Linked DNA regions of Homo sapiens. The protein of the gene in region 4 purifies or fractionates together with the protein of the main gene of each other region. This does not show direct contact. Each region holds a gene or a part of one and is shown on either strand. Other genes may lie near its edges.

The links.
Region 1: the proteins of IQCN (region 4) and MEIOC purify together in Homo sapiens (affinity purification with mass spectrometry; 2 studies listed by BioGRID and IntAct, with this or other methods). This does not show direct contact.
Region 2: the proteins of IQCN (region 4) and TSC22D3 purify together in Homo sapiens (affinity purification with mass spectrometry; 2 studies listed by BioGRID and IntAct, with this or other methods). This does not show direct contact.
Region 3: the proteins of IQCN (region 4) and PPP1R9A purify together in Homo sapiens (affinity purification with mass spectrometry; 2 studies listed by BioGRID and IntAct, with this or other methods). This does not show direct contact.

The regions. Positions count from the first base shown.
Region 1 is NC_000017.11:44,651,883-44,659,490, forward strand, and holds the start of MEIOC (meiosis-specific coiled-coil domain-containing protein MEIOC), read left to right. Parts: upstream 1-4,585; 5' UTR 4,586-4,731; coding exon 4,732-4,800; intron 4,801-5,244; coding exon 5,245-5,379; intron 5,380-7,608. UniProt on the Homo sapiens protein: Is required for meiosis completion in both male and female germ cells. Confers stability to numerous meiotic mRNAs in gonads allowing proper initiation and progression into meiosis prophase I.
Region 2 is NC_000023.11:107,712,718-107,716,816, reverse strand, and holds the end of TSC22D3 (TSC22 domain family protein 3), read left to right. Parts: exon of another isoform or gene 1-5; coding exon of another isoform or gene 6-127; intron 128-308; exon of another isoform or gene 309-502; intron 503-866; coding exon 867-918; intron 919-2,067; coding exon 2,068-2,298; 3' UTR 2,299-3,596; downstream 3,597-4,099. UniProt on the Homo sapiens protein: Protects T-cells from IL2 deprivation-induced apoptosis through the inhibition of FOXO3A transcriptional activity that leads to the down-regulation of the pro-apoptotic factor BCL2L11.
Region 3 is NC_000007.14:95,288,583-95,295,614, reverse strand, and holds part of PPP1R9A (neurabin-1), read right to left. Parts: coding exon 6,897-7,032; intron 5,525-6,896; coding exon 5,312-5,524; 3' UTR 1-5,311. UniProt on the Homo sapiens protein: Binds to actin filaments (F-actin) and shows cross-linking activity. Binds along the sides of the F-actin. May be involved in neurite formation. Inhibits protein phosphatase 1-alpha activity.
Region 4 is NC_000019.10:18,257,450-18,264,481, forward strand, and holds part of IQCN (IQ domain-containing protein N), read right to left. Parts: coding exon 6,914-7,032; intron 658-6,913; coding exon 1-657. UniProt on the Homo sapiens protein: Essential for spermiogenesis and fertilization. May be required for manchette assembly in elongating spermatids.

The DNA.
Region 1 (7,608 bases), on a different chromosome or scaffold from region 4:
GTATGTATATATATACATATATATATATTTTTTTTTTTTTTTAAAGAAAGAAAAAGAGACTGGGTGTGGTGCCTGTAATCCCAGCACTTTGGGAGGCTGAGTGGGGAGGATCACTTGAAGCCAGGAGTTTGAGTATTCAGTAAGCTATGATCATGCCACTGTGGTCTACCAGTCTACGCTGGGCAGCAGAGCAAGATCCCATCTCTCTCTCTCAATCTCTGTGTGTGTGTGTATACATATATATATATATACACACACATACAGTAATACATATATATAGTAATTTCAGATTACCATAGATTACTATATATAGATCTATACAGGGATATATAGATATATATAGATCTATAGATATATCTCCCTGTCTATATATAGAGATAGATATATATAGATAGATATACAGAGATAGATCTCTCTATATCTATTTATATCTATCTATATGTATATCTATAGAGAGAGAAATTTTAAAAAGAAAAAATAGGCTGGGTGCAGTGGCTCACGCCTGTAATCCTAGCACTTTGGGAGGCCGAGGCAGGCGGATTGCCTGAGCTCAGGAGTTCGAGACCAGCCTGGGTAACATGGAAAAACCCTGTCTCTACTAAAAATACAAAAATTTAGCCAGGCGTGGTTGTGCGTGCCTGTAATCCCAGCTACTCGGGAGGCTGAGGCATGAAAATCCCTTGAACCTGGGAGGCAGAGGTTACAATGAACCAAGATCGTGCCACTCTACTCCAGGCTGGGTGACAGAGGGAGACTCTGTCTCAAAAAAAAAAAAAGAAAGAAAGAAAGAAAAAGAAAAAGAAAATAACAAGTGTTGGTGAGGATGTGGAGAAATGGGAACTCTCATGCATTGTTGGTGAGAATGTAAAATGGTGCAGCCACAGTGTAAAACATTTTGGAATTACTCAAGACATCGAATACAATTACCATATGTCCCAACAATACCACTCTTAGGTATATACCCAAAATAATTGGAAAAAAAATTAATCAAATACTTGTACACCAATGTTTCTAGCAGTACTACGCACAATAGTGAAAAGTTGAGAGCCAAGCGCGGTGACTCATGCCTGTAATCACTTTGAGAGGTCAAGGCAGGCAGATCACTTGAGGTCAAGAGGTCGAGAACACCCTGGCCAACATGGTGAGATCCCATTTCTATTAAAAATACAAAAATTAGGCGGGGCACGGTGGCTCAAACCTGTAATCCCAGCACTGTGGGAGGCTGAGGCAGGCGGATCACCAGAGGTCAGGAGTTCGAGGCCAGCCTGTCCAACATGGCAAAACCCTGTCTCTACTAAAAATACAAAAATCAGCCAGGCATGGTGATTCATGCCTGTAATCCCAGCTACTCAGGAGGCTGAGACAGGAGAATCACTTGAACCCAGGAGGCAGAGGTTGCAGTGAGCTGAGATCATGCCACTGCACTCCAACCTGGGTGACAGAGCAAGACTCTGTCTCAAAAAAAAAAAAAAATTAGCCAGGTTTGGTGGCACATGCCTGTAATCCCAGCTCCTGGGGAAGCTGAGGCAGGAGAATCATCTGAACGATTCCTCCGATAAGGGGGAGGTTGCAGTGAGCCAAGATTGCGCCTGCACTCCAGCCTGCAGCACAGAGCAAGACTCTGACTCAAAAAAAAAAAAAAAAGGTGGAAACCACCCATGTGTCCATAAACAGATGAATGCTTGAACAAAATGTGGTATATCCATACAATGGAACCTTAGTCAGCCATAAAAAGGAATGACATTCAGGTATATGCTATAACATGAAGGAACCTTGATGACAAGGTTTATTTTACCTTAGTAAAATAAGCCAGGCACAAAAGGATAAATATTGTATGATTCCACTTATATATGGTACCTAGAGTAGTCAAATTCATAGAGATAGAAAGTAGAATGGTGGTTGCCAGAACTGGGAGAAGGGGGCATGGGGAATAATTATTTATGGGATGCTGCAGAGTTTCTGTTTGTGATTAATGAAGTTCTGAAACTGTAGAGCGGTCATGGTTACACAACATTATGAATGTGCTTAATGCCACTTAACCAAACACTTAAAAACGACAAATCTTATGTATATTTTACTATAAAAATACATAAGGGGATTCATAGCTTTTCAAAATGCTTCTAGGGAGTATAGGAGAGGGGGAAAAAGCCAGTAGTCCTCAATGCAATGAGCCCTACACCAGCAACTTTAAGGCTGAGGCAGAGAAATGTAACTGTTAGAGCCACACCACCTGGTCAGCTTTTTTTAAGTGTGTGTGCGTGTGTGTGTGTTTGTGTGTGTGTGTGTGTGTGTGCATGCACATTTTGTTTTTCCTTTTTGTGGAGCACTATATTCCCCAGGCAAATCTCAAACTCCTGGGCTCAATCTATCCTCCTGCCTTTGCTTCCCTAAATGCTGGGATTACAGGTGTGAGTCCAGCAGCTTTTTTTCTTTTCTTTCTTCCTTTTTTTTTTTTTTTTTTTTTGAAACAGGGTCTTGCTCTGTTGCCCAGGCTGGAGTGTGATGGAGTGATTATGGCTCACTGCATCCTCCAACTCTCCAGCTCAGGCGATCCTCCCATCTCAGCCTCCCAAGTGCAGGTACCTGGGACTACAGGCACACACCACCACACCCAACTAATTGTTAATTTTTTTGTAGAGACGAAGTCTCCTTATGTTGCCCTGGCTGGGCAACTCCTGGGCTCAAGCAATCCTCCTGCCTCGGCCTCCCAAAGTGCTGGGATTACAGGCACAAGCCACTGCGCCCAGCCTTGGTGAGCTTTCTGAACTCAAAGCTGAGTAGAGACCTGAAGTAACTATCAGGACAATATGGGTCAATAAAACTCATCCTCCTACTTCCATTCGTGTCTGAGTTAAAACAGTATCTTCCACTTAAGTGCTCATTTCTCAAGTTTTGATTTTAAATATAAAAACAGCCTAAAGGTGCTTACTGTGTTTACTTCTTTTATATTTCAACTATCTGATTTTTTAGCAGTGTCTAGGGACAAAAACTAGCATTTCTCTGAGACCATCACATCCCCAATCTGACTGCTATGTGAATGGTTTGTTGGGTGCCTGGAATGGCTTGTTTATGTAAGCTCTCACCTGTAATCCCACACTTTGGGAGGCCGAGGCGGAGGATCACTTCAGGCCAAGAGTTCAGTTCAAGACCAGCCTGAGCAACATAAGGAGATCCAACCCCCTACCCCCATCCCCACCTCCAACCCCAGCTCTACAAAAAAATTAAAAAATTAGCTAGGGCCAGGCGCCGTGGCTCACGCCTGTAATCCCAGAATTTTGGGAGGCCGAGGCGGGCGGATCACGAGGTCAAGAGATCGAGACCATCCTGGACAACATGGTGAAATTCCCGTCTCTACTAAAAATACAAAAATTAGCGGGGCGTGGTGGCGTGGGCCTGTAGTCCTAGCTACTCGGGAGGCTGAGGCGGGAGAATCGCTTGAACCCGGGAGGCGGAGGTTGCAGTGAGCCTTTGCGCCACCGCACTCTAGCCTGGCGACAGTGAGACTCCATCTCACCAAAAAAAAAAAAAAAAAAAAAATTAGCTGGGAGTGGTGGCACGCGCCTGTAGCCCCAACTACTCGGGAGGCTGAGGCGGGAGGATCGCTCGAGACCAGGAGTTTGAGACCAGCCTGGGCAACATAAGGAGACCCAACCCCCCCGCCCTTCAGCTTTACAAAAAAATTAAAAAATTAGCCAGGAGTGGTGGCGCCGCGTGCCTGCAGCCCCAGCTACTCGGGAGGCTGAGGCGGGAGGGTCGCTTGAACCCGGGAGTTCAAGGCTGCAACGAGCTATGATAGCGCCACTGCACTCCAGCCTGGGCGACAGAGCAAGACCCTGTTTTACACAGACAAACAAAAACGAACAAAAAGGTCACAGCGAACTTTGTTCAAAAGTCACATTAACACTTAAATGCCTTAACCCGGACTGAAAGCCCGGGCTTAGGACACAGGGCAGCTCTCCCTCAAAAAGGGGTCTCCCAGCAACACCCAATCCACAAGTTGCTCCTCGCCCTCCCCAAACCGGTACAAGATATATCAGTCTCTGGGCAGCTCCAACGGATTCTGAAGCTACGGGAGGGACTAAGGAACAAATATGAAATGTCGGACAAATGAAATGTGCGCAACAGCTAGGTTTTGGAGGATAAGCCAGTTGCTGAGCGACTTCTCAAATCTTCCAAGTGCCTCCAACACCTCTCCCACCCGGTAGGGCTGCGCTCTTTAGCTCTTTCAACCTTCCACGACCGGCCTCTCCGCTGCCCTATCAGCAAATCATCGGGCCGGTGCCTGCCAGTCCGGGCCAATCCCGAACACATTTACTTTGAGCGGGAAAAGCTCAGAAGCGGCGAGAGAGCGTGGTCCGCTAACCGCCCCTTCCTCTCCTTGTCTCTGGGGGGTAACGGAGCCTGGAGTGGTCGCCCATTGGATGGGCATCGGACCAATGGCGGGCTGCGAAACGGGAGGGGCGGGCCTCACAGCGGGGCGGGGCGCGCCTGTGCCGTGTCGCGTGCCGAGCCGCGAGCCCCAGGCAGGCCAGGTAACGGCCTCTGCCCCCGCCCCTCCCTCCCCGCTCGGACTTCCCTTACCCGCACACTGGCTCCAGGCAGCGCCCGGGCGGCGGAGGCGGCTGCGGAGACGGCGGGGTGCGGGCTGAGGGAGCCGGGCCTGGACGCCCCCCCCATCACCCCCGTACCCCAGGAGCTGTGCCTAGTCCAGGAGAGGCTGGGGGGCGCCCCATGGAGGTGAGACGCGGAGACACCTGCCCGCGCCCTCACCCCTCAGGCCTGAGGGAGGAAGGACTTGAGGTAATGGATGAGGAAGGGCAGGGTCCAGGGGGCGGCCAGACTTGCAAGAGGCGACGAGGAGGAGAGGCTGAGGAGGGGGCGCGTCCCTAGACGGGGCGGCAGAGGCGGGTCGTCGGTGGGGAGGCCGAACGGGGCGGGCGGGCGGGGGGCGCGGCGCGGGCTGACTGGACGGGCCGGACGGAGCGCGGGTCGCCGCGATTCCCGGGAGGCAGCCGTCGCGCTGAGGCGGTGGCCGGGGAGGGGCGCCCCTCGGGGTCAGCACTCAGGGGGCCCGAGGGGAGAGTGAGAATCCCGAGGCTGGAAGCGCGGGCCCCCACATTCGTGTCCTCTGAGAGGGTTCGGAATTGAGCCGAACAGCCGAGGTAGAACAGGTGTCGGGCCGTTTCAGCTCCGGCGTCACCCTCGTGACCACTTTCTGATATTTCCTATTCCCGTGTGCTGCAGCCCAAAGTCGCGTTCCCCGGAGGTGCGAATCGCTGTTGGAACCTCGGCGCCGACGCCGGCAGCAGGTTAACCGACGTCTTCGGCAGCGTGATGTTGACTGGCTCCGCTTCCTTCTACGATTGCTACACATCGCAGGTCCTTTAGTAAACTCTGCCTCTGTTAGACGATTTATTCTCAAATGGATTTACTCGAGCCACCGATTCATAGGTGTTTAATGGCTCCACAGTTAAGGAAGAGAAAACCAGGGAAAACTTTTTTTTTTTTTTTTTTTTTTTGAGACAGAGTCTTGCTCTGTCTCCTAGGCTGGAGTGCAGTGGCGCCATCTCGGCTCACTGCAACCTCCGCCAGCCGGGCTCAGGCGATTCTTGTGCCTCAGCTTCCTGAGGCACGCGCCACCACGCCCGGCTGTTTTTTTTGTTTGTTTTGTTTTTGTTTTTTGTTTTTGAGATGGAGTTTTGCTCTTGTTGCCCAGGCTGGAGTGCAGTGGTGCGATCTCGGCTCACCTCAACCTCTGCCTCCGGGGCTCAAGTTATTCTCCTGCCTCAGCCTCCGGAGTAGCTGGGATTACAGGCATGCGCCACCACGCCTGGCTAATTTTGTATTTTTAGTAGAGACAGGGTTTCTCCATGTTGGTCAGGCTGGTCTCGAACTCCCAACCTCGGGTGATCCGCGCACCTCGGCCTCCCAAAGTGCTGGGATTACAGGCATGAGCCACCGCGTCCAGCCGTTTTGTTTTGTTTTTTGAGACGGAGTCTCCTTCTGTTGCCCAGGCTGGAGTGCAGTGGTGCGATCTCGGATCACTGCAACCTCTGTCTCCCTGGTTCAAGCAGTTCTTCCGTCTCAGCCTCCCCAGTAGCTGGGATTACAGGCACCTGCCATCATGCCCGGCTAATTTTTGTATTGTTTTTAGAGACCGGGTTTCACCATGTTCCCCAGGCTGGTCTCGAACTTCTGGGCTCCAGCCATCCTCCCGCCTCGGCCTCCCAAAGTGCTAGGATTTCAGGCCACAGCGCCCAGCCCAGGAACAATTTTTTTTTTTTTTTTTTGAGACGGAGTCTTGCTCTGTCGCCCAGGCTGGAGTGCAGTGACGCAATCTCCGCTCACTGCAAGCTCCACCTCCCAGGTTCACGCCATTCTCCTGCCTCAGCCTCCCGAGTAGCTGGGACTACAGGCACCCGCCACCACGCCCGGCTAATTTTTTTGTATTTTTAGTAGATACGGGGTTTCACTGTGTTAGCCAGTATGGTCTCGATCTCCTGACCTCGTGATCCGCTCGCCTCAGCCTCCCAAAGTGCTGGGATTACAGGCGTGAGCCACCGCGCCCGGCTACAATCTTTTAAATACAGTGTTTGCAGAATACATACTTTGCTTTGAAAATAAGTTAAGGGCCGGGCGCCATGGCTCGTGCCTGTAATCCCAGCACTCTGGGGGGCTGAGGCGGGTGGATCACCTGAGTTCGGGAGTTCAAGACCAGCCTGGCCAACATGGCGAAACCCCATCTCTACTAAAAATACAAAAATCAGCCGGGTGTGGGGGCAGGCACCTGTAATCCCAGCTACTTGGGAGACTGAGGCAGGAGAATCTTAAACCAGGGAGGTGGAGGTTGCAGTGAGCCAAGATCATGCCACTGCACTCCAGCCTGGGTGACAGAGTGAGACTCCCTCTCAAAAAAAAAAAAAAAAGAAAAAAGAAAACAAATTGAAGAATAAGATTTTTCATTGATTCGTTTCCATCTTGTCCTTAGCATAACATAATTCCAGAAATGTAAGAAAATCCATTATTTAGTAAGATTAAAATATGTTTTTTTTCGTTCAGGCATTTATTGCAAGTTGGTACAAACATATTTTTGATAATTTAAAGGTGAAAATTTCACTTTACTCCTTTATTTTCTGGTTTTAACAATGTCTTAAATTATATGCTACCACTTACCTCACCAAGACATTTAGATTTATTAATCAAAGGAAATAAAGCTTGGGTAATGTAAGTAATTTTCATTTGAAATTATTTAACCAGGACATCAATGTTGATATTGTTGTACTTTGAATTATAACAATATCTAGAAATAAATTATTTTATTTAATCCACACTAAGAATCTTGTATATTATTATGCCACTGTACAGATTGAGAAACTGAGCCTCAGAGAGCTTGATTTGTGCCCTAAATGACAAAGCTCAAGTGGAACCCAGACCATAGTTCCACTGCTCTCTGCAGTGTTTACATCCGGACTAAAATTTATTTGGATTTAATTTCAGTTCACTGTTTTAAGTATGTTAAGGATATAAGTGATACATTTTAAAGTTAATCCAGTTAATATGCCCACTCAAATATTTGCATATTTCCTGGCCTCTGTTAACGAAAGGGAT
Region 2 (4,099 bases), on a different chromosome or scaffold from region 4:
GAGCCATGAACACCGAAATGTATCAGACCCCCATGGAGGTGGCGGTCTACCAGCTGCACAATTTCTCCATCTCCTTCTTCTCTTCTCTGCTTGGAGGGGATGTGGTTTCCGTTAAGCTGGACAACAGGTAACCGCTGGCCCCAGCTCCGGCGCCTCCCGAGCCGGGGCGCCGGCCGGAGCTGGGCTAGGAGCCCGGTCTCTGAGCGAGCTGTGTGCCGCCGGTCCCTGTTCCCCGCGGTGCAGCATCCTGGGAAGGGGCGGGGGGGAGGGGACGCAGGAAGGGGGGGGTCACCGCCGCTCTGGGATCCGTCATCGAAGCGTCCCTGCGGCCGCTGCGCCGTGAAAACCAGCTGCTGCAGCCGCAGAGGCAGCCGGAGGCAGAGGGGCGGCGGGCAGGACCAGACAGGGCTGGGCAGGGGGCTGGCCGAGCGCCGTGCGCCGCTTGGGAGAAGGCCGGAAGCTTACCAGCCGAGAAGGAATTCCTAGCTAGCTTCAGAGCCGGGTAGGTTTGCCTGGGACCTTGTAGGCCGGCTGTGGGGGACTCCCCGGGTCGCACAGCCCCATTGTTTGCATATTGCCCGAGCAGGCCACGGTGGCCTGCGCGCCCCAGGACTCGCAAGCAGCTCCGATCGGTTGGAACTCGGGGCGGCGGCAGCAGCGCTGAGCCGGCCTGGATGAGGAGATGCAGCTTCCTGCAGGGGCCAAGGAAGGATCTGGGGACAAACTGTCCGGAACTCTGGGCCAGGGAGGCGAGAAGGAGAGAGAGAGGAAGAGCCGAGGCAGATGGAGGACTTTGGCCACAACTGCCATGTACTCAAGAGTAGAACCGAGTGGGTAATGGGTCGCTTTGCTTTTTGTCTTGGCAGTGCCTCCGGAGCCAGCGTGGTGGCCATAGACAACAAGATCGAACAGGCCATGGTGAGTGGCATCACTGCGTCATTCTCATCCCCTGACTTAGCTGCTGCTTATGTAACTCTGGGCAGGATTGAGGGAATGGGTGAAAAAGCCCTTAGCCAAAACCCTGAGGAAGCCGACAGCCTGCCTCCTATCCGCACTGGAGGTGGAGTCTGATTAGAGTGGCACCTTTTAGGGCATTTCCAGTCTTCCCTTCCTGGGCTCCCTCCTTTCTTCCTCCCTCCTCCATCTCAGGTCTTTGCCGCAGGCTCTGACTCTCTCCTGGGCCTGTTGTTGGGCAGGGAGCTCAGACTCTTGCATTTGTGTGCATCGTGCAGCTGGCAAGGGGCTGAGCTCATTGGATGCAACAGCACTGCAGTGCCTCTGCAGAGCCTGGACTGGGGTCAGGAGTTGGGTGGAAACAGGAAGCGAAGCACCCCACCCCTGTCCCTCTCCTTACCAGGTAGAGGTCATACTCCAAGGAGCAGCCACAATGGCTGCAGAGGGTTAGGGCTTCAGCGGTTGGGAGCCACTTAATTGTGCCCTGGAGCTTAAGGACACCTTCCCTGCCCCCAGTGCAGTCATCAAATTCAGAGAGGATGCGGCAGTTCTGTACCTTTCCCCAAGGCCAATGTCCTGTGTGCTAACTGGCCGGCTGCAGGACAGCTGCAATTCAATGTGCTGGGTCATATGGAGGGGAGGAGACTCTAAAATAGCCAATTTTATTCTCTTGGTTAAGATTTGTACAGCAGACAAACAGTATGGGATGCATTGCAGGTCTACCCTTCCCCCAGATCTGGATCGGCAGCAGTAGGGGCTTATGTAAAAAGGGGGACATAGCAAACCACTGGCAAACAGCAGAAGTGTCACCCCAAAGGCCCCTCAGCAGCCAGCTTTGAAAGTCATTAGAAACTTGCAGGGGAGAACCTATCTAGTTCAAAGCTGGGCTCTCAACTCCAGCATAAGCCAAATCATGTAGCTCTCCTGAATGAGGGTTTAAGTGCTTCAGAGAAAGGTGAACGAGGAATTGGACTTGCCAGACCAGTTCACTGAGGGAAGGCTGGAGGGCCCTGGCATTAAGGACAGCACAGGCACACCAATGACAGAGCAAAGGTGCTGCAGAGGGGCCACGATGGCTAAGGAATGGCTTTGTTATGATTCCCTCATTGGCAGGATCTGGTGAAGAATCATCTGATGTATGCTGTGAGAGAGGAGGTGGAGATCCTGAAGGAGCAGATCCGAGAGCTGGTGGAGAAGAACTCCCAGCTAGAGCGTGAGAACACCCTGTTGAAGACCCTGGCAAGCCCAGAGCAGCTGGAGAAGTTCCAGTCCTGTCTGAGCCCTGAAGAGCCAGCTCCCGAATCCCCACAAGTGCCCGAGGCCCCTGGTGGTTCTGCGGTGTAAGTGGCTCTGTCCTCAGGGTGGGCAGAGCCACTAAACTTGTTTTACCTAGTTCTTTCCAGTTTGTTTTTGGCTCCCCAAGCATCATCTCACGAGGAGAACTTTACACCTAGCACAGCTGGTGCCAAGAGATGTCCTAAGGACATGGCCACCTGGGTCCACTCCAGCGACAGACCCCTGACAAGAGCAGGTCTCTGGAGGCTGAGTTGCATGGGGCCTAGTAACACCAAGCCAGTGAGCCTCTAATGCTACTGCGCCCTGGGGGCTCCCAGGGCCTGGGCAACTTAGCTGCAACTGGCAAAGGAGAAGGGTAGTTTGAGGTGTGACACCAGTTTGCTCCAGAAAGTTTAAGGGGTCTGTTTCTCATCTCCATGGACATCTTCAACAGCTTCACCTGACAACGACTGTTCCTATGAAGAAGCCACTTGTGTTTTAAGCAGAGGCAACCTCTCTCTTCTCCTCTGTTTCGTGAAGGCAGGGGACACAGATGGGAGAGATTGAGCCAAGTCAGCCTTCTGTTGGTTAATATGGTATAATGCATGGCTTTGTGCACAGCCCAGTGTGGGATTACAGCTTTGGGATGACCGCTTACAAAGTTCTGTTTGGTTAGTATTGGCATAGTTTTTCTATATAGCCATAAATGCGTATATATACCCATAGGGCTAGATCTGTATCTTAGTGTAGCGATGTATACATATACACATCCACCTACATGTTGAAGGGCCTAACCAGCCTTGGGAGTATTGACTGGTCCCTTACCTCTTATGGCTAAGTCTTTGACTGTGTTCATTTACCAAGTTGACCCAGTTTGTCTTTTAGGTTAAGTAAGACTCGAGAGTAAAGGCAAGGAGGGGGGCCAGCCTCTGAATGCGGCCACGGATGCCTTGCTGCTGCAACCCTTTCCCCAGCTGTCCACTGAAACGTGAAGTCCTGTTTTGAATGCCAAACCCACCATTCACTGGTGCTGACTACATAGAATGGGGTTGAGAGAAGATCAGTTTGGGCTTCACAGTGTCATTTGAAAACGTTTTTTGTTTTGTTTTGTAATTATTGTGGAAAACTTTCAAGTGAACAGAAGGATGGTGTCCTACTGTGGATGAGGGATGAACAAGGGGATGGCTTTGATCCAATGGAGCCTGGGAGGTGTGCCCAGAAAGCTTGTCTGTAGCGGGTTTTGTGAGAGTGAACACTTTCCACTTTTTGACACCTTATCCTGATGTATGGTTCCAGGATTTGGATTTTGATTTTCCAAATGTAGCTTGAAATTTCAATAAACTTTGCTCTGTTTTTCTAAAAATAAACTTGGTGTCTGACTGAGTATAAATGGACTGGGTGGGAGAGGCCCCTCACCCAGTAGGGGCTGTTTTGCTGACCCCCTGAATATCCCTTGAGCACCCTGTCAGTGCCAGGCCTATGCTGCAGCCGTGATCTCGTGTCATCTGCACAATACTCATATGAAGGACATGCTGTTTGCCCTCACTGTCTGGATAAAGAAACTGAGACTCAGCGAGTTTAAGTGACTTGCCCAAAGTCACATGGCTATTACGGGAATTAGGACTCAAGCCCAGATCCTTCCTCCCTCTCCTGCTCCGCTTTCATATGAGAGCTTCGGAGTGAGTGGCAAGGTGACTCATAACACACAACTGTAGCTTGAGGGGGTGATTTGGGAGGAAAGATACCCCGAGGAAGGCCCAAAAGAAACAGGCAGGGTATACATAGGAGGGAGCGAGAAGAGCGGAACCAAATCAACAGGCGTGGGCCTCTTCTGTCTTCTGAAAACATCACTGGGCTCACTTAATGCATT
Region 3 (7,032 bases), on a different chromosome or scaffold from region 4:
GCAACAACCAAAATGCCATTGCTTGCACAAAAAGTAAATAAATGATCATATGATGGCAACATTCATCATAAGAGAGCCAGTAGGCAGTGACTGTAAGCATCACAGCCACCAATTATGTCATTTTAGAATTGTGAGCAAATTCACAAGAACACACAGTGCAATTTTTAGCTGCATACATTTCTTCTGAGCTCCAACTCAGCAATATGCAATCTTGACATCAAAGCATTAGCCAAATATTTGAGGAAATTTTCTTACTAAAATACCAAGTATCTGATAAATCAATTTTACCAAAATATATAAACATATAGAAGGATAAGTGCATTTAGTAGAAATACTTACAATAAAAAAATCTCTTAAAATCTATGAGCCATTCAATGTATACACAACGCAAGAAGTGGCAATAAGGCTATGATTACAGCTCCAGGTCCTGACTGACCTCGCCAAGTTCCATACACAATATATTTTTTAATGCCATGTGATTGCAGTGTGTGTGCGTGTGTAAGGTGGGAGTGATATTCACACATATGTAGTTCTGAACATCTACACAAACGGCATGCACATTGTTGAGAAGTTATCTGTTCTCTTATTGCATACATCTTACTCACTGTTGAATCCCTAGCAGTTTTGGGGTTGGGTTAGGGTCAAGCATAGGAAATCATCATATTTCTTTCCTTCTCCACTCTTGAGGATCTGGAATCAGGTCACAGACTGTGCTGGGTCCACACGCTTACATATGTGAACCTTCAAGTAACTACCATTCCCTCAATAGGCCCACATAGACACCACGGACAAGCAAATAAGGACCCTCTGTCTACCATAAATAGAACTTGATGCTTTCACTTTCCAGGAGAAGCTGATTCTGTCGGCTTTCTCTTTGCCCCTCCAACTTCTTAGTTGGGCCTATTCTATGCTGCTACTTCAAGTTACTCAAATGTGTTTTGTCTGGTGTTATTTTTTTCTCCAGTGTTTTGGACCAAGACTAGATTTCCTGAGACTTTAAATACGCAAGACAAATGCAAACAAAATCTGCCAACATACCCAGGCTGCTTTTCAGGAGTGAATCACTGAAGCGCATTTGGATTTCCTATAACACTACTTTCTTTTGGGAATGTACAGCCCTCCCCCAGCTCCCCATCCCCCATCATAATGTAAACCATTCTAATAGAAAATATGGATGTTTTGGCTGGGGGTGGTGGCACATGCCTGTAGTCCCAGCTACTTGGGAAGCTGAAGCAGGAGGACCACTTGAGCCCAGGAGTTTGAGGCTGCAGTAAGACATGATGGCACCACTGCAGTCCAGTCTGGGTGACAGATGACAGAAAAAAAAAAAAAAAAAGAAAAGAAAAGAAAATATGGACATTTTATTTCTGGACTTTATCCTTAAATGCTTAGCTTTAGAATAGTGCACAGGTACATCCTTAATAAAAAGTAAATTTGAAAAGACAGGAAAGGACTGTGCTTTTCTCTTCCATTTTACCTTTTCATTCTGAGACCACTAAGGTCTTTGCATTAAGTAGGTGACGTGAACCCTAGTGACCACTGCCCACCAAAATGCCCCTCATCTCCAGCTCTGTCAGGAGTACCTTTAGTTACTCAAATGGAAATATCTCAGTGTAATGATGGGGCTACAACATATCCAAAGTATAGATGGTTCTCTCAGGGCTGCTGGGGCAGCTTCCTTTAGAATCCTCTAGAACACTATTGTTAAACACTGGATCTCCTCTTGAAGTTTAGTCTGCATAACCTTTAACACTTAAACATGAATCAGAGTATCTATATAAATGCAAATTTTCATTTCCCTTTTATAAAATGCAATTTTCAAGCACATGCTAATTCTGGTGCACAATGAACCCAGACAAATTTGTCTTCAGCACAAACTCTAACGGCCGAGGTGCTAGATCAAACCACCTGTGACCATTTTTGTAGCTTGGGACTGGGATATTTTAAGATTTCAGGCTAGTGATGATTACAGGGTCACAGATAGTGGCAAAGGTAAATCTGGTTCCTCATTTTCCCTCTTGCCACTTTGTTTCCAACAACAATGGAGCAAAAGGTGACAGTCCCATTTTGTGCCAGTTGAAAGCTGAGTTTGGCTTTAGTACCTATCATACTGCAATCATGAACTGCTGTGGGTTAAAAAAAGCTTGTGATGTTGAGGGTGTGAAATCAATTGTCAATCCCAGCTAAAGGATGATAGCCACAGAACAGCTTTATTGTCATGAAACTAAAGGGGGACTTCATCAGGAGTGTTAGAATGGATGAAATGAGGTTTCTTCCCTAACTTAACATTCTGCAGAAAATTCCTGATTCAGGTAAAAAAAGAATGAGATTAGTATTACATAAACTGTGAGTTACTTGAAGGGAGATGGTCTTAAACAAAGTAATCTGTTATAAAACTAACATCCTTTAATGGGAAACCCTGACCCAGATACAGCTCATACAATGCTTTCTGTCTGCAGCTTGGCCTCCTCACCACACATTCCCTCCCAACAAAGCATAACCTATACCCCAAAACACTTTTGGCTATTGTTAGAATCATACTGAGCTCTCCTTTAGGGAATCAGTTCATAGCAACCAGATATTCCCTTTTTGTTCATTTTCTGATAATAAAAACTGCAGTTTTTAAGGTTGATGAAATAACAATTCTGTGTTAAATTGTAAGGACACTGAAAACCACTAGCATTAAAGTAGGAATTGTGCAAGACATTGGAGCCTTGATTAGGTATCATGCACTACAGTCAATAAAAGAAATAATAGGAAAACAAAATGTGCACAAGATCTGAGGTCTTTCACTTTGCTTTCATACCCTTAATCAGTTTACATCTTATGCTTTGTGGGGCAATCAAACCAAATGACTTTTACAATTTCATCCGTTTTAAGTGGTAATGTTAAAATAACTCACTTCGGCCTAAAATTACTATAATTTAACTTAAAAAATCAAAATACTTATAATACTAAATGATTTTAGGAATAAGAATTTGATTTATAACATTGTCAGTTGGACATTTATCTAAACATTCAATATACAAAGTTATAAAGAAAAATACTTCTAAGATATTTAAGAAAATGCAATATAATAGATCATAAATTAGGTGCAAAAACAAGACACTTACAGACATTTCCAGTATATACATCCATTTTCAAATATTACCAAAGTGTAAACATAACTTAAGATAATCATCCTTCTATTTCTACTCTTGAATACAGTGAAACTTCCAGTGTGATCCAGGTCACTTTTTTCCCAAAGATAAGCAAAAATGGCAAAAATTTACAATAGCAAGCACTAATATTACCAGATTTTTACTAATTTAGTGTTTTAGTATTTGAAAAGTTTTGCCAAATTGTATCACTCATTAATAGTGGCTTCTTATTTCTCATGATGTGAAAAAATAACAAAGCACCAGACATCTCAAGACATTAATAGAGTATCCAATACGGCAGTTTCATTATCATACCCCTAATGAAGACAGACAGAAAAACATAATGGTGACTTTGATAACTGTAAAACACAATGTTACTTCATGTCAACGTTTCTGAGGATTGAATGAAGGGTCTGTACCTAATGACAAAAGAGCTGACGCATAACCGACAATACTCTGGCAATGAAAAGAAAACAGGCCTTGGGGGTAAAACAGAATTAAAAATGTCCAGTTTAGATAATTTCTGAATTCAGATTTTCAGATAAAAAAAAATCACACTGTTATTAAAATACAAGATGGGGCTACAAGGGAGTTCCCTTAATCTGTTACACTCAAAAGCCTTGCCGAGGCTCTAAATATGGAATACTTCTAGTGGAAGATACGAGATGCTGGGAACAGAGCAGAGATTCCCATAAAGTAAAAGAAGTAAAATACTGTCCAAGAATTCATGTGGCCTCAAGTCTTATTCTGAAACTTGTCCTTTGGAAAGTGGATAACCTCATTTTTAGAGTCAACGCAGCAAAGAGAACCAGATACATGAGCATAAAAAACAAAAAACCCTCATCACATGAAATTTCTCAAAACGAGTTTATTTTCTCCTTCTTCTGCCCCAGTCTCCTGCACTTGACTTAGTTTGGTGAAACATGGAAATCCTTAATGCTGGCTTAAAATTAGTATAAGTTCCTCCACTACTAAAGTATACCTATGCACTGCCTTAAACAAACTTTTTCTGTAAAATTGAGAATCTTTGAAGTATGGAAAGGAATGGTTCGGAAAAACCATTCAAAATCTCTCTAAAATGTTAACTGACAGTTTCCTCTAACTGGTATTTCTATTTTTCTTAAAAGTACATTTGTTAAAATACTAACTGAGCCCACCTGGGAAATCTTGAGTAGAAAATATGTGATGAGTTCCTGATTGTGACATAGGCAGGCTGAAGACCAGCCAGAATGTTCCCCAGGAGAGGAAACCTGAAAATGGTGGTTTCCTTAAAAATCAATTTCCTGTTCAATTTCTTGGGTTAGGTAGGGGGAAGAGGAACTGTGTTGTGTTTGCCAGTGTTGCTGAAATGCTGAACACACAGCAGTAGCAAGGTCAACAGATCCCAATATCCCATGGCTGCATTAATGTCTGATTTTTTTCTTTCTTGTTCAGCCGTATCTAGAGGATAAATATTACCCTCAGAACCCCAAGGTAATACCCACATCCACATTCTTAAGGCTTTTGCTTTTTTCAGTGGTTAACAAATAGCTATAATTTATTTTCTTTCTTTTTGATGCCTAGCAAGCAGAATGACTTGCTTGCCTTTTCCCTTAGTAGGTAACTACAGAGCAGAGCACCCATGTTTCCACAGCGGGGTGGTCTCACTGTCCAGACTGAGAATTAAGAGCAAATCTTTCCCACACATTGGAGTAGGTGTTGCAGTCCTAGAAGTTAAGTACTGGTCTCAGATCTCATGGCAGGGTGCTCTCTGCCATGCAGACATGTGCAATTGCCATTTCAGGATCCCACACTGAAAATTCACGGCGCTCCATTAACAACACCAGGGTGTGTCATGCTCTTGGGTGGGGTCACACTAGTTCTCCAAGTGACAAAACACACCCAACACAACACAAGATGTTGGTAAGTTAGAGAAGAGCAAAACACAGCTACTTAAATGAAATCTCTGGTTTGTTAATGAACCAAAGGTGGCTTGGGATTATTTTAGTAGTTAAAATTAAGAGTGCATTCTATTGCAGAAAATGCAGTTATTCAACACACAGTTCCTCAGCCGGCCTAGAGCCGCATTACCCTTATCATTTAGTTTCTTTTTCATCCTCTGGAGGAGAGCAGGGCAGGAAGAGGTGGGGACTTCTCTTGGAGCATCTCCATCATCTGTAAGAGGGTATGTGTTACTGCTCACCAGCACCCTCGGCTGTAGTTGACGTCATCTTTTCTGTCTTTTTGGACTTCCTCTGCATTTGCTCTTGCTCCTTTCTCCTTAGCTTTTCTCTTTGTTTTTCCATTTTCTCTTGGGCCTTCCGAGCCTTCTCTAGAGACATCTTCATTTCCTTGAGTTTCTTTTTGACCACTGCTCGGTCCTGGGATGCTGTCATTCCAAGAGCCTAAGAAAGAAACACACACACAAACTGAATTTGAAAACCAATGAGCCCTCTGATGGTGTTAACATACCATATATCCAAGTTCGTAAACTAATTCAAACATTGAAGAGGTAAGAACAGAGGAAGAACTAGTTACATTTGCTAAAAACCAACACACTGGGGGCTACCCTTTATTTTTTCTTTTGTTCTTTGAAGTCCCTTGCAAAGTATACCCTAAAGCTCATTAATTAAATGCTTTCCAAATGAGTAATTAATGGGTGAATGAATGGAAAAAGGGCACAATTCTACTTCTCCAACCTTTGGGCTGTAGGCATTTACGGGTAAAGGTATTGCTAAACTCATCAATATTTTCAAAGCATAGGAGTGAGCACCTGCTGTCACAGAGGGCTCCAAGAAGGGCAAGAAGAATTGAAATGGCTTCCTTTCTGCCAATGTTTTCATTACAATGAGAACCAAAAATGTCTTTGGGGCCAGAATGCTCGTGTCAGCATGACTAGCCATTCTTTCCCTGTAGGCAGACCTATAAAGGAAGTTGATTATAATGAGGAGGTTGCTCGATGAACTTAGAATTCAGAATAAGGGGAGTTGCTTATGTACTTTAAATGTTTCGTGACCTTCAGAATCAACAGCAGGATGCATCTATCTATCTCCCCAACAGGGACAGCCTTGTCAATGAGGCCTTCATATTCACAAGCTATTGATTGATCTCTAACCTTTTCAAGATTGTCAAGAGATACTCGTCTGCCCGTCAGCCCAGCAGGGGGCTGAGGCGGGGGTGGGGCTTGGGGGTACATGGAGTTGGCTGTAAGCACCTTTTTCCCTTTCCCAAAGGGATGGATGCCACCTTGGTCTCTAAGAGAGATGGACTGGACAAGTGGAAATGAAAGTGCCATGGAGGGGAGGGAAGATGTGTGTACATATTTGGGGAAAAAACTTCTGGGGAGAACATCATCCCAGTTTGGGAGTGGTGTGTAAGGAAGAGTGGAGGTGAAGGAGAAATGAACAAGGAAAAGAAGACTCGTGGATCTGGGTCTTAATTCTAATGTGATGAAAAAGTCCACAGTGGCCATTATTAAAACTCATACTACATCAGATGTAAGGAGAGTTAATATATGGACCATGTGTTGCCAGGTGGAAGCAATGGAGTGGGTCCCTCACTCTCCTAATCAGCAGCCTACCATTTGATTTGGAACCCCTGATGGACTTTCTGAGACTTCATTTACTACTCAGAAAGAATTCAACATCCTTTCTGCTGAATATTGATGAGAATTACCTCTCAGATATGCAGAATGCTCTTACCTAATGAAAACATTTTAGGTGATATGAGTAATACAAATTATACCTGGTAACCTAAGACAGACATATAATTCTTTACCTTAAGTTTATTTCCATCCAACTGCAGGAGCTGTTCTCCAGTGATGTTTTGGGCACTGAATTCAGATACATACTGCTCCAGATTTAGGCTCATTAACCAGTGAGAAACCTGCTGCACACTCCATTCCTGAACGGCC
Region 4 (7,032 bases):
GGGGCCCTCAGTGCCCTGGCCCATGCCCTGCACCACACGGGTGGGCTGTGTGCGTCCACAGGTATGACAGGTGCGAGGGCTGGAGCCCACTAGCATCACCACGCTGGGCGGGCTCCCGATCCTGGAGCTCAGGGAGTGGCAGACGCTGCAAGCGTGTGCCTGGCAGGACTGGAAGCAGCGATGGTCAGATACTGTCCTGGCTCTGCCATCCTGGAACCAGCTTCGGTCAGACATGACCCCGGCCCGGCTGCCCAGCTCCACCCACGTGACGGGGTGGAGCATCTGCCAGTGCCGGGCTTGGTCCCGGCGGGTGCTGTAGCCGCGCCAGGCAGACTGGATGGTCGTGGTGGCTCTGCAGAGGTGTGCCAGGTTCCGCCGCACACGGTAGCCGCGCCAAGTAGCTTGGATGACCATGGCCCCCCGGTGCCACAGCCGGATCCTGCGACGCGCCAGGTAGCCACGGACGCCCGCCTGGATAGTGATCACTGCGAGGATGCGGATCTCCTCTGCAGCCTGCATGGACACCATTGGCTCCCCGGACCGCCTGGGAGGCACCACCGCCTTGTTGCGCCAGGTGTCCCAGGACGCAGCACCCCTGGCTGGCTCCCATGCGCGGTTCCACGATTGGCCACCAACCACACCAGCGTCCGCGGGGCCCTGGAGTATAGTGGAGTTCAGGGATGCCTTGTGACTAACGGCAGGATTCTGGGGGCTATAGGAGTCCTGCCGTCTCCACGGTGACTCCTGGTTAAAAAGGGGTGGCAGGGAACCACTTGGGGAAGACTCATAGCCTAGAGACACCCTCCGAACTCCCGGGGCCAGCGGAGGAATGACCGAGGAGTGTGTCATCTCCCCAGTGCGGATGACGGGCCTTACCTCTGCAGAGGGCCTGTGGGTGGGGTTTGCACCACTTCGGGCTGAGGCCTGGGATGGTTGTCTTTGCACATACTGTAAGGGCCTAACCCTGGCCACAGAACTTTCTAGCAGTTCTGGAACAATCCTACCATGCACGGATCTGTAGGAATTTTTAGGGCCCATGGCGTCCCAGCGGCTGCTCGGAGCCATGTTTCCAGACACTGTTTTCTGGAGTGGATTGGGGACAGCTTCTGTCTGGAAGGGACTGGACAATGCCCTTCTAGCCGAGGACGGATATAGTGGCACATGTGAGACCATGCTGGTGGTCCCTGACCTCTGAAGAAGACTAGGATTCCCCATCCTGCCCACAGACACTGAAAGCAATCTGAAAGCCTCAGTACTGCCACGGGCCAGCTGGGGTGATCCTGAGACTACATTAGAAGCCACTGTACCCTGAGAGTGATTTGGGGGTATGACGTGAGTGACAGACCCCTGTTGATAAACTGAGGGGGACTTAGTGGCTAAACCCGGGGCCTGGAAAGGGACAGGGACCATGCCACTAGCATGGCTGGGAGCCACCTCCCTTGGGGAAGAGACCCTTTCTCAGACAGGGACCTATGATCATGGCCCCCATCAGCTCCCAGAGGACTGGAGTACATCCACTGGGTTGCACCAGTGACCCTGGCTTTGCTGAATAGGTCATTGGATCCACTTGATCCTGACACTTGGAACACAGCCTCATCCAATTCTCCTAGCTTGGCTTGGTCCCCTGTGACCCCAGATGGCATTATCCTAGCATCTTGGCTCAATTGTAAGGCTCTTGATAGAACCGTGGGCACTCGGTGTAGACTCCTCACTGTGCCACTAGCTGCCGGGGCTGAGGAGTGACCTGGAGCCAGACTGGTGGTGTGGGGCATCTGCAAGGGGGCTAAAGACCTCTCCCCAGCCAGGCTTTGAGGTAAGGAGGGGCAGTGATGTCAATCACCATGGGCCCCTTGGAGCAGCTCTGAGCCACACTAGAGGCCCCCATCATTGGCACAGAACCAGGGGGACAACTGGGCTCACCCGACTCACTACTGAACCTGGGAGCAAGTTTGGAGCAGCTAAGCTAGCGGAGGGTCTTACAGATAGACTTGGCTTCTTTCTGTCTGCCATCAGACTGGGAGCCACCCAACTGGACACAGAGCCTGCGGGAAGGCTGTGACCCATGCCTCGGATGGTGGAGCCCGGGGGAAGGCTGGAGGTTATGCCACCAGGCAGAGTGCCTGGGACTGCGCCCGTGCTCATTCTACTGGCTACAAAACCTCCTGCCGCACCACGACCAGCCCTGCTCTTCAGAGAGTCCTGCGGAATCACATCTCTCTGCTGGTAACTGGGTGGGACCATGGATGCCTCAGAAGGGTGCCAGCAGTCTATGTTTTTTGGAATAACCACACTGATCTGGGAGCTGCTGGGGTCCATGCTGTTCAGGGAAAGATTAGACTGAGTCACGGCCAGTCTGTTGGGCACTGAAGCCAGAGAGGGGCTGGGGGCCATCCCTGTGGTTCCAGAGGGATGTGTCAAAGGGCCACCTGCCTCTAAGACCTGGGATGCAAGGGAAGCCATGCCATTGGCCACCTGACATTGACTTTGGCCCATGCCAGTTGCTATGGTTCTCCAGGGGAGATTCCCAGCTAGGCCAGGAGATGTGGTCCCCTGAGACCCACTGGGGAACATAGCATCAGCCAAAGGCTCCTGGGGATGGCTTACAGCCACACCCCTGAACAGAGGCGTGATTCACTGGCCTACACAACAGGCCTCCTCATCAGCATGAGAGAGATTTGGTGTTGAAACACTAACCACAGAGGGTGGACACACATGCCTCCCACCAACCCTGGGTGGATGATGGAACCCAAGGGACACGTCGTTGAACTTGAAGTCCGGGGGGCTGGATACCATCTCACTAACCATCAGAGGTTCTTCACATAGGTTCACCCCAGTACCCAGGGATGGCTGGTTCAGACCCTGGTCCATATTTCCAGCCACAGAGGGATATGGTCCACCCAGGCTAACTGAAACAAACGCTGATGGGTGACACAGACACGGGGCTACTGAGTCCACCCTTGAACACTGCAGATTTGAATCCAGCCTAGAGCCCCAGCATGGCTCATTGAGGCCATGACATGTACCACTGACCACAGATGGCTGGGATCGGCTTGGGGCCAACCTAGTGTCCGGGGGTGACTGAGCCAGGCTTAGGGCTTCCGTGTGGGCCACAGATGGTGGGAATAGGCTGGGGGCTATAGCTGGCTCGGCTAGGCTGGAGGCTAGGGTACAGGATGAATTTGTCTTGCCTGGACTGGAGGCCACAGATGGTTGGGCTTGCCTTGGGGATACTGCAGTGGTCTGAGATGGGTGGGCTAGGCTGGAGCCCGCCCCACTGGCCACATATGGGTGAGCTAGACTTGGAGACAACCCATGGGGTCCTGATGGGTGGGCTAGGCTTGGGGACACACCAATGGCTTGAGATGGCTGGGCTGGGCTTAAGGACACCACACAGGTCATAGGTTGGTGGGCTAGCCTTGAAGACATCCCTGTGGCTTGAGACGGCTGGGCTAGGCTTGGGGATACACCACAGGCCATAGGTTGATGAGCTGGTCTTAAGGGCACTGCAGTGGTGGCCTGAGATAGCTGGGCAAGGCTTGGGGACACCTCACTGGGCATAGATCGATGAACCTGGCTTGGGGACACCATACAGGTCATAGATGCATGAGCTCTGCTAGGGGACATCCTGCTGGTTATAGATGCGTGAGCTTGGTTTGGGGACACCCTGGAGGCCACTGGTGGGTAATCTTGTCTAGGGGACATCCCACTGGCTTGAGATGGCTGGGCTAGGCTTGAGGAAACCCTACTGGCCACAGATTGGTGGGCTACACTTGGGGACACCCCAGTGGCCTGAGATGGCCAGGTCAAGCTTGGGGATTCCCCAGTGGACTGAGGAGGCTGGGCCAGGCTTGGAGACTCCCGAATGGCCATAGATGGGTGAGCTAGGGTTGGGGACACTCCAATGGTGTGAAATGGCATGGCTAGGCTTGGGGACACTCCAATGGTCTGAGATGGCATGGCTAGGCTTGGGGACACTCCAATAGTCTGAGATGACATGGCTAGGCTTGGGGACACTCTGATGGTCAGAGATGGCTGGGTCAGGCTTGGAGACTCCCCAGTGGGCTGAGATGGGTAGGCTGGGCTTGGGGACATCTCAGTGGGCTGAGATGGGTAGGCTGGGCTTGGGGACTCCCCAGTGACCACAGATGGGTCGCCTGGGCTTGGGGACACCTCAGTGGCCATAAATGGGTAGGCTGGGCTTGGGAACACCTCAGTGCGCTGATATGACTGGGCCAGGCTTGGAGACTCCCCAGTGACCACAGATGGGTAGGCTGAGCTTGGGGACACCTCAGTGGGCTGAGATGGCTGGGCAAGGCTAGGGGACTCCCCAGTGGCCACACATGGATAGTCTGGGCTTGGGGACACCTCAGTGGGCTGAAATGGGTAGCCTGGGCTTGGGGACACCTCAGTGGCCATAGATAGGTAGCCTGAGCTTGGGGACATCTCAGTAGGCTGAGATGAGTAGTCTGGGCTTGGGGACACTTCAGTGGCCACAGATAGGTAGCCTGAGCTTGGGGACACCTCAGTGAGCTGAGATGGGTAGCCTGGGCTTGGGGACACCTCAGTGGCCACAGATAGGTAGCCTGAGCTTGGGGATATCTCAGTGGGCTGATATGGGTAGGTTGGGCTTGGGGACACCTCAGTGGCCACAGATGGGTATTCTGGGCTTGGGGACATCTCAATGGCCATAGATAGGTAGCCTGGGTTTGGGGACACCTCAGTGGGCTGATATGAGTAGGCTGCACTTGGGGACACCTCAGTGAGCTGATATGGGTGGGCTGGGCTTGGAGATACCTCAGTGGGCTGAAATGGCTGTGCCAGGGTTGGGTACTCCCTAATGGCCTGAGATGGGTAGGTTGGACTTGGGGACACCTCAGTGGGCTGAAATGGCTGAGCCAGCATTGGGTACTCCCCAACAGACTGAGATGGGTAGTCTGGACTTGGAGACACCCCAAAGGCTTGAGATGGCTGGGCCAGATTTGAGGTTACCCCAGGGGCTTGAGATGGCTGGGCTAGGCTTGAGGGCTCCCCACTGTCCATAGATGGCTGGGCTAGGTTTTGGGACCCCCAGTTAGCCATTGATTGGTGACCTTGGTCTGAGGCCACTCTAAAGGTCCTTGATGGGTGTCCTCGGCTTGGGGACCTCCTAGTCACCACAGATGGCTGTGCTGGTCTTGGTGTCACTCTATTAGGCACAGAGGAGTGTGGTAGCCTTGGGGTCACCCAATTACCCATAGATGGGCAGGTTAGCCTTGGGGATACCTTACTGGATGCTATATGCTGGGATAGGCTTGGGGCCAGCCTACTGAACCCTGATGCCTGGCCTAGGTTTGGGGCTACCCTACTGGCCAGTGTAGCCTGGGACACAATTGGGGCCAAGCTCTTGGCCACAGATGGTGGCTTATATGCAGTGGAGACCACAGTACCTAAAGACAGAGTCCTCCTCAGCTCTGTCTTGACGGTTGCCTGGGACACCTCAATCAGATTCACAGAGCTCTTGCCTAAGGAGAACTTGTGGATCTCAGCCTCTGAGCCCCAGTGAACACGCAAGGTCAAGCAGTTAGACACTGAGCTGTGTTGGAAACTGGGCACTTTCTCCGAGGCTGGAGTGGGCCGGTAGGGGAAGTGTAGGGTCATGTACCTATAGCCGGTTTCAGTCTCTTGCGTATCCTTAAACCTCTGGAGTGTCCCCATGGACTCCGGAGGAAAAACAGACTTCACCGCAAGGTCCCCTTCTAAACTGCTTTCCCGTGACTCATCTATCTTGTTGACGGCAGGCAGGCTGGCCACAGACATAGTGGAAAGGCTGAGGGAACTAGAACTTTGCAGAGAGCTTTCGGAATTGTTCTCCTGACTGTAGGTCACAAAGCCCTGGGAGAAGCTCCTGGCCAGGTCACCGTCTCGATCCTGTGGCAAACCACCTACTGGCTCACCGAGGATGGATGGCTGGTGGTCTGTTGCTAGCTTCTGGGGGCAGAGCAGGGCAGACACAGAACCCTGTGTTCGATTCCTCCCCTGTCCACAGACAGATGTCTTGGGACGAACTTGAGCCAATGCACTGCCGGGGGAAGCTTGAAACAGACCATGAGTCTTGGATGCCTGAGTTTTGGTCACCATGGTGACCTGCAAGGGACTTGGGGCCCCCTTGTCTATCACCTCCCTAGTACCCGGGGGGGCCTGTTTGCGATTTGGGGGCTGATACCTCCTCCCCAGGCTCTCCCTGGAAGCCCTGGATGCCTGCTGCTGGCCTCTGGCCACTAAGGGTTGGTAGAGACCACGATGTACCCCTGAGGACTGACACCAAGGCAGGCCCCCACAGGTGAGGTAAGGCTGGTGAACATGGGCAGCCCTCCCACCACCCACGCTGCAAGGAAGCCTACCCGAGGCCACCCTGCCCTCCCTGGTCGATAGATAAGAGGCCACCCTGCTGACCACATGTGGCCTGTGGCAGCTCGGGGCTGTGCCATAGATCACAGAGGGCTGGTTCATGCTTGGGCCCACACAGTTGGCAATGAGAGGCTGCCACAGACTCGGGGGTGGCTGCATGTGGGACAGCTTGAGCAAACTGGGGCCCTCCCCACTCCCCTCGGGGTTAAAATCTGATGCCAATGTGCCAGGCTCCAGGGTCGGGCATGCTTCTTCCTTTTGGAACTTGGGGCTCAAATCCAGGTTTGAGGAGAAGTCCCTGCTGGACTCCATCATCTCCCGGGACAGCATGGGATACAGGCCAGTGATCAGGGGACCCTGGTGAATGCTGGTGATGACGCTACCCATCACCGAGGCTCCCACAGTGACCACAGATAAGCAGGGTGACCCCCACAAGATGGCCCCATCAATCCCCCATCTCCTCCAAGGGCCCGGCAGGTTGGCCCATGGTGAAACAACCCCAGATCCCAACCTGGGAATCCCTGACCTTGCTGGTCTGTGGTCTCACGGGGCCCAGGGAGGGCCCCCATGCGGCCGATGGACTCCTCCTGCAGGCCACCTTCACCAGGGCCGGCGTCTTAGTCACCCCGCTTCCTGTTGATTTCG